Regions from separate parts of the Homo sapiens genome. Here all the other regions are linked to region 2. Evidence: fine-mapped expression QTL. A gene starts in region 2. Each other region holds a variant in brackets. All regions are shown on one strand. Distances are from middle to middle.

Evidence for each region. PIP is the estimated chance that this variant, and not a neighbour inherited with it, causes the effect.
Region 1: its variant is fine-mapped to the expression of PLAU in whole blood (TOPMed, PIP above 0.99). The same link has a PIP of 0.9 or more in blood mononuclear cells.
Region 3: its variant is fine-mapped to the expression of PLAU in pancreas (GTEx, PIP 0.99).

The regions. Positions count from the first base shown.
Region 1 is chr10:73,939,439-73,942,194 of GRCh38, forward strand. No RefSeq gene overlaps it. Among named protein-coding and RNA genes, the nearest start is that of C10orf55, 18 kb to the left of the region's middle. RefSeq lists an enhancer at 1,267-1,426. The variant C/A (reference allele first, on the strand shown) is at 1,337.
Region 2 is chr10:73,909,678-73,912,433 of GRCh38, forward strand. PLAU (plasminogen activator, urokinase) reads left to right here and starts at 1,455. Exons shown (of 11, transcript NM_002658.6): 1 at 1,455-1,541; 2 at 1,848-1,935; 3 at 2,364-2,391; 4 at 2,538-2,645. The coding sequence starts at 1,879. It overlaps C10orf55 (chromosome 10 putative open reading frame 55), which reads right to left. Exons shown (of 5, transcript NR_160938.1): 4 at 2,523-2,607; 5 at 292-2,418. RefSeq lists enhancers at 1-130, 1-436 and a silencer at 1,402-2,001.
Region 3 is chr10:73,875,978-73,878,733 of GRCh38, forward strand. No RefSeq gene overlaps it. Among named protein-coding and RNA genes, the nearest start is that of CAMK2G, 2.8 kb to the left of the region's middle. The variant G/A (reference allele first, on the strand shown) is at 1,545.

The DNA of each region.
Region 1 (2,756 bases), 30 kb after region 2:
GTGTGTGTGTGTGTGTGTGTGTGTGCCACCACACCCGGCCAACATTTTTAAAAATAATAATAAATAAAAAAAATAATAAAATAATAAAACGGGGCCAGGCGCGGTGGCTCACGCCTGTAATCCCAGCAATTTGGGAGGCGGACGCAGGAAGATCGCTTAAGCCCAGGAGTTCGAGACCAGCCTAGGCAACAAAGTGAGACTTTCTCTCTACAAAAAATACAAAATACAGCTTTGGGCATTTTTTCTTTTTTTGAGATAGGGCCTGGCTTTGTCACCCAGGCTGGAGTGCAGTGGGTCATCACCACTCACTGCAGCCTGGACCTACTGGGCTGAAGTGATCCTCCCACCTCAGCCTCCCAAGTAGCTGAGACTACAGGCATGCGCCACCATGCCCAGCTAATTTTTGTATTTTTTGTGGAGATGGTGTCTCATTTTGTTGCCCAGGTTGGTCTCGAACCCCCGAACTCAAGTGATCCTCCTGCCTCAGCCTCCCCAAGTGCTGAGATTATAGGCGTGAGCCACCATGCCTGGCTTTCTTTTACTCATTTATTTATTTATTTGGGTGTGGGGGTCACAGCTTTGACTTGCTAAGTATACACATTTGAGATATACCACACTTTCAGTAACTTTGTTTTGGCATTAAAAATCTGTATCTATCTATATCTAGAGCTTTGAAAGGGAAGTAATAAACATTTTTTTTTTTTTTGAGACAGAGTCTTGCTCTGTCGCCCAGGCTGGAGTGCAGTGGCTAGATCTGGGCTCACTGCAAGCTCCGCCTTCTGGGTTCACGCCATTCTCCTGCCTCAGCCTCCCGAGTAGCTGGAACTACAGGTGCTCGCCACCACGCCCGGCTAATTTTCTTTGTATTTTTTAGTAGATACGAGGTTTCACCATGTTAGCCAGGATGGTCTCGATCTTCTGACCTCGTGATCCGCCCGCCTCGGCCTCCCAAAGTGCTGGGATTACAGGCGTGAGCCACTGCGCCCGGCCAACATTTTTTAAAATAATAAAACGGGGCCAGGTGCGGTGGCTCACGCCTGTAATCCCAGCACTTTGGGAGGCCGACGCGGGAAGATTGCTTGAGCCCAGGAGTTTGAGACCAGCCTGGGCAACAAAGTGAGACTTTGTCTCTACAAAAAATACAAAATAAAAATAAAACGGAAGGAGTCTGGCTCAGTCTTCACCTCTGAGAAGGGTAAGGAGAGCTCCAAACCGGAGCCTGAGAGCGCCTGTCCCCACTGGGCACTTGGACTGAGCGTCAAGAACCGAGGGCGGCCCGTGGGAGTCTTCCTTCCGCGGCCCGGGCGCGGTTCTGGCTTCATCTGCATCGCTCTGG[C/A]GGCCCCTGCTGGGCTGGCGGTGAAAGGCGACCCGGGATGGGGCGGTGCCCCGAGCTCTGGCTGGAGTAGGAGACACTGCGTGGGGGTGGCCTGGTGGGCAGCACGAAGACGTTGGGCTCAAGGGGACTCAAAGAAGACAAGCTCTGTTTACCGCACGGTTGTTTATTGCCACGCTGTGGGCTAAGGGATTGTTCTGAAAGTGCTGCTGAGGAAGGGGGCAAGTCCAGGTCTGAGGGCAAGACTGCTGAGCCCAGGGAGGGAAATGTCCGATTGCTGGGTGGGAATTCATGACCCTATTTCTTCTCTTCTCCTTCCCGGCTCCACGTGGTGACCATAAAGGGCCTGGCCTCTCTGAGCAGGGCAGCCATCCTCCTCCGTGCAGCTGGTTGGGGTCATGAACTCTGATTCAGAAAGAGGGAGCAGGATTTCTTGCTAAGACCTCCTGGCCGAAGTCAAATTCTCTGACCTGCTTTTACTGAAAAGCCTTGTTCTGAGGGCATACAGGAGCCTCAATCAACCATTTAATAAAAATGCTTCCTCACCGTCCTCATGGTCTTTATCCCTCTGGGGTGGAAGGTAGGATTCAGGGCCCCAAACCTTTCCCTGAGCATACTGGTTACCCAGTGGGTCCTAGTGAGTATTTGAGATAAAAATAGCTTATGGGAGCCTGTGGCTTAGTGCAGCTGCCATGGCTAGTGCCTTGACCAAAGGTGGTATCAGGTGATTTGGAAAATAGAGCCTTTTGGGTCTGGCAAAGGCTCACTTCAAATAGACAGAGGTTTTAGTCACTGTGAGTCAAGCAGTTTATGCCACCACAGCTTGCTGGCGCCCCTTCACCCATTCTCATCCAATGTATTGCAAATGGAAACTTTAAACTGGAAAAAGCAGCTTTTTATATATGACCACTTTTTTTTAAATTCTTTTTTGAGACAGGGTCTTCCTCTGTCACCCAGTCTGGAGTGCCGTGGTACCATCTCGGCTCACTTCAACCTCCGCCTCCTGGGCACAGGTGATCCTCCCACCTCAGCCTCCCGAGTAGCTGGGATTACAGGTGTGTGCCACCACGCCTGGCTAATATTTGCTACTTTTAGCAGAGGTGGAGTTTCACCATGTTGCCCAGGCTGGTCCTGAACTCCTGGGCTCAAGTGATTTACCCACCTCAGCCTCCCAAAGTGCTGGGATTATAGGTGTGAGCCACCACTCCCAGCCATAGCCACTTCTTTATATATGGTTCTTCATATTTGTGTGTGAAGTTTTGAGTCCTTAGGTCGCTAGTGGTAGCAGCCTTCCCAGATTCTGTCATCTTTCTCTTGTTTTGTACATGACCCAGAGCCTATTAATAGGGAACCGTGGCCAAGCTAAGCCCTTAGGCTCACGAAGCAGGTTCAGAGGTCCCTGAGTCCTACCCTCCTCCACTCT
Region 2 (2,756 bases):
CAAGGCAGGAAAATGCTGCAGGCCTAGGCTGGGAAAGGGCCCAAAGCCGCTAGTGGATTGCTGGGACTCAGCCTCCTCCTTCCCACTAAGAGAGCGAGTCCTACTGGGTTCAAAATGACCCCAAGCCCTGGTTCCTGACACTAGGGGAAAGAGATGGGGGTGACAGAATCACAGAATCCCTGCTATGTTCCTCCAAGTGTGCCCAGAGATGCGTGTGTGTGTGTGTGTGTATACACAAATGTCTGCTTATCCTCAGGCAGGAAGGGTGGATGCAGTCATTTACACATGGTCTGTTTTTCTGGAGGACAATTTTATTTGATAAACAATTGTTTCTATCTGAATAGAATAAACAAGGCTCTATGATGAAGTAAAACACTAAATACACATGCATTAAAAAATGCATAATTATCTTTTTGGAATGGGCTATACAGAGATGTGCTTTTTAAAATGTTAAGAGTGTAAAAGGACAAACAGTGAAAAATAAATCTTCCTCTTATTTTGTCCTCCAGTCTCCCAATTCCTCTACTCAGAGGTGAGAACAGAACTTCCACACCCTCCAGAACCTCCACAGTTAGAACTGTCTACATGTTTCCATTGTCTTTACTTTTATTCTTGCCTGCACAAATAAATGAATTGCTCATTATGGAAACTTCCCAAAAGACCCGTTAACACTTCAATAGGAAGCACCAACAGTTTATGCCCTAGGACTTTGTTCCCACAATCCTGTAACATCATATCACGACACCTAACCCAATCCTTATCAAGCCCTGTCAAAAACGGACTTTAAACCAAGCTGCAAATTTTCAGTAATCTGGCCTTGCCTTTCCCCCTCTGATAGCACCATCAAACAAACCCCCTTACTGCCGAAAGCAATAAGCCCGGCTTTGTTCCATCCACTGGTTGTGTTGGTGATATCTGGGGACTGCCACTGAACAGACGCACAGAGGGAGCCCCTACAGGCAGGGGTTTTTCTGTCTGTGCTTCTGGGAGAGTATGTCTCGTACATTTGTCGCGTTGATGAAGACTTCACAGCTCCATCAGCTGCGGGCAAGGGGGTCTGAGGCAGTCTTAGGCAAGTTGGGGCCCAGCGGGGAGAAGTTGCAGAAGAACTGATTAGAGGACCCCAGGAGGCTTCAGAGCTGGGCGAGGTAGAGAGTCTCCTGTGCGCCTTCTCTCCTCTCTGCAATTCGGGGACTCCTTGCACTGGGGCAGGCCCCCGGCCAGGTGCATGGGAGGAAGCACGGAGAATTTACAAGCCTCTCGATTCCTCAGTCCAGACGCTGTTGGGTCCCCTCCGCTGGAGATCGCGCTTCCCCCAAATCTTTGTGAGCGTTGCGGAAGCACGCGGGGTCCGGGTCGCTGAGCGCTGCAAGACAGGGGAGGGAGCCGGGCGGGAGAGGGAGGGGCGGCGCCGGGGCGGGCCCTGATATAGAGCAGGCGCCGCGGGTCGCAGCACAGTGCGGAGACCGCAGCCCCGGAGCCCGGGCCAGGGTCCACCTGTCCCCGCAGCGCCGGCTCGCGCCCTCCTGCCGCAGCCACCGGTGAGTGCCGCGGTCCTGAGATCCCCGGGCCGGATGCGCGGCGGCCCCAGCTCCCGAGCGTCTGCCTCCCCCGCCCTGGGCTGCCCGGGCTCCCTGGGCTCCCCGGCGGCTGCACGGAGTCAAGGCGCCCCGTCCCGGGCGTCCCCCGCGGGTGCCGATCCAGGCTGCCCGGAGTCCGGAGCCCAGAGAGGAGAGAGACAGCTGGGGAGCCTGGTCACCGCGGGCATCTCCCCTGCGCTGCAGTCGCCCGCCTGGCCTGCCTTCCCGTTCCTCCGCCTCTTGCCCTGACTTCTCCTTCCTTTGCAGAGCCGCCGTCTAGCGCCCCGACCTCGCCACCATGAGAGCCCTGCTGGCGCGCCTGCTTCTCTGCGTCCTGGTCGTGAGCGACTCCAAAGTGAGTGCGCTCTTGCTTTGACTGATGCTGCCCAAGGACCTCTGATCAGCACCAGGGGAGAGGAGGGGCTGCTCAGGGAGCTGGGGTCCTCCGGATTCCATCCACAGCAGGGCCAGACTCTCCCCAGGAAATGGGACAGGGTGGCAGCGGAGGCTTGAGAACCACGGGGGTTGGCACTGGCTGGCAAGGGAGGAAGAGGCCGCCGGGACTGCCCCAGCCTGCGGGCATCTGGTAGATGAAGCTTGCTTGGGTCAATCCATTTCTCCTGGCTGGAAACCCATGGTCTTCCATTTGAGAACTAGATACGAACAGGGTGAGGCGAGAGGGAGAGGGAAGAGTGGGTTTTGGGATTGGGGCCAGTTTACCCTCACCCTGGAGTCCCTGGAGCATGGGACCTTTGATGAAGCCTCCTCCCGAATCTCTTCCAGGGCAGCAATGAACTTCATCAAGTTCCATGTGAGTATCCACCCCTACAACAGTTGGCTGCACAGACAAGTTGGGAAGGCTTCAGGGGACATCCCCTCCCTGCCCTCTGCTGCAGGGCTGCGCCACCCCTTACCACTTCCACTCCCCCTCGCTTACCCCACCTTTGTTCTCTCCAGCGAACTGTGACTGTCTAAATGGAGGAACATGTGTGTCCAACAAGTACTTCTCCAACATTCACTGGTGCAACTGCCCAAAGAAATTCGGAGGGCAGCACTGTGAAATAGGTATGGGGATCTCCACTGCAACTGGGAGAGAAATTTGGGGACAGGGAGGGATGGGTGGGAGGCAAGAGCAGGCAGGAGTTAGGAGCTGGAGGTAGGGTGGGTGACATCTTC
Region 3 (2,756 bases), 34 kb before region 2:
CCAGCCTGGCCAACATGGTGAAATCCTGTCTCTACTAAAAATACAAAAACTAGCTTCCCGCTGAATTGTAGGCTCCAATAAAGCGGGGCCTCTGCACCTTTTGTTCACCATTGTACACTCAGCCCCTGACCCTCAGTAAATATTTGTGGGATGGCAGAGGGAGATACCATCCCTTCTCCTGTCCCCACCATCACAAGTTGGTGGGACAGAGGCACATAACTGTCTTGATGGGGGACAAACAGGCTGGGCAGGTTCCTGACCTGCCTGGGCAGCTGTCCCCTGAGGCTGAGGCCAGCCCCAACTGGGCAGGGTGGAGCTCAGCCAGAGGCTGCCACTCAGTCTTGATTACAGCAGGACGCCCACTGGGAGTCGGGTCTCCCTCGCCAGCAGGCTCGCTCTGCCAGAGGAGGGGGCTGAGAGGTGTCCCAGCCTCCCAAGCTGCCTCCCTGAGGGGTGGGTGGGGCAGAGCTCTCCAGGAGTGCTCCCCTCCTGTCCTGACCCAACAGCCCTGAGAGCTGCTTTGGGAACCAGACTGCCCAGTAGGGGTGATTAGGGAATGGGAGGGCATGAAGCCCTAAAGGAAAAGCATTAGCAGTTCTCTTGGGAGAAGGGTAGAGAGGGCCAAGGGAAAGGGTAGCAGTGCCAGAGCACCATGCCCTACCCCTCCCCAGGGCAACAGGAGGTAAAGTGGAGAGTAAGGCCACTTCCTATCTCAAAGCACCTGGGTGAGAGCCAGGTCCCAAGTCCCAGTGTGGGGTAGGGCAATGAGATTGCATACATGGGGATGCCAGTAAGTGTTGAGTTTCTGTCATCCATCTCCAAAGCAGAAGCAACTTTGAATATCAGTTGATCATCAATGTGCCCTTCCTAAGTGCTCAAGGCAACTTGCTTCCTGACCTCCAGGCTGATACTTGAAACTTTCTATTCATGAATGGAAGGTGGAGTGGAGGAGACCCTGAGAGGTCAGAACAAGCACAGAGGAGGGCTGCCATGGAGTCCCCTAGGAGTATCCTGGGGCAAATGTAAAACAGGACTACAACCCTGACCAGTCTCATGTGCCTGCTGTGAGAGGAACATCATCCCGACTGAGGGGAGGGTTCAACACTAGGTGTTTTGGGGTAACCACGTAAAGCATTTTGCATTGTGTCTCTAGGTAAAAGGAAGAGTGATGAGAAAAATATTGGAGTGAAGCCTCAGGGGTGACTCATAGTACTATATAAGTGGAGCTAGCTGCCTTTCAACAAATATGACTCCCTACCATAGGTTTGTCACTGCCTTTTACTTTTTGAAACATTCAAATAAAGTAGAAAATTAGAATTCACACAATTAGAAGAAAACTCAATCCATCGTCTTTTTTTTTTAACCCCTCAGACAGGGTCTCGCTCTGTCCCCCAGGCTGGAGTACAGTGGTGCTGTCACGGCTCACTGCAGCTTCACCCTCCCAAGTAGCTAGGACTACAGGCATGTGCCACCACACTCAGCTAGTTTTACATTTTTTTATAGAGATGAGGTCTCACAATTTTGACCAGGCTGGTCTCAAACTC[G/A]TAGACTCAAGCAATCATCCTGTCTTGGCCTCCAAAAGTGCTAGGATTACAGGCATGAGCCACCTTGTCCAGCCTCCTTTTTCCTTTGTATCTCTACTTCACTTTTCCCTTCCTCCCTCACTACTTCTCTCAACAGCGCAGCCTCTGACGCATCCACGGTGGTGGTTTGGAGCCTATAGACACTTCTGTGTGCACACACAAACACACACCCTCGCACATACACCCTCCTCTATCCCCACTGCTGTAGCGCCCACACAACCTCCAGCTACCCTACAGCAATTAGAGGGAAGATACACACAAATAATAACAAGCTCACCAGCTCCCTCCACTTCAGTGTCTATGGCAACCTCCTGGGGTCTTTGGGCTGGGTTGCTCTGGTTGCAGCCAGTCCCCTGGGCAGCACCAGCACTCAGGCTGTGCTCAGAGCTCAGAGAACAGGGAATGACAAAGATATCAGTACCCTGATAAGCACCAGAGGCACCCCACTGGGTGGGACCATCTTTCTCTTTGAAGCCTGCAAAGTCTCACGTCCATGAGGGGTTTTCAATCCATATTCTAAGCAGAATCCATGGGGTTACGAGGCCAGGCCGCAACAGCTAGTCAACATATATATATTGACGTTCCACATAAGATTTGGTTGCAGTTAAGAGTCCCTGACTAAAAAGAAGTTTGGAACCCATTGGACTTCTGGGTCCTTTCCAACTCTGAGATTCTATGATTAGTTTTGGAGAATTAGGAGTGATGAGATCATGACCTCTCTCCAAGGAACTCTGAGAGAATTATTAATGGTGCGGCATTTAAAACTGGAGAGAAGATGTGATCATGGAGATAGGAAAGAGTGAGAAAGCAAATACAACATTTGTTTTGTTTTGAGACAGTGTCTCACTCTGTCACCCAGGCTGTGGTGCAGTGGTGTGATCCTAACTTACTGCAGCCTCTAACTCCTGGGCTCAAGCCATTCTCCTGCCTCAGCCTCCTGAATGGCTGGGACTATAGGTCCATGCCACTATACCGAGCTTAATTAAATTTTTTTTGGTAGAAATGAGGGTCTTGCTATGTTGCCCAGGCTGGTCTTGAACTCCTGGCCTCAGGCTGTCCTCCTGCTTTGGCCTCTCAAAGTGCTGTGATTACAGGCATGAGCCACTGTAAACACAGTATTTAAATAAGCAATCCTCACACTGGGAGGGAGTGAAGGATGCCCCTCTTTGCCCT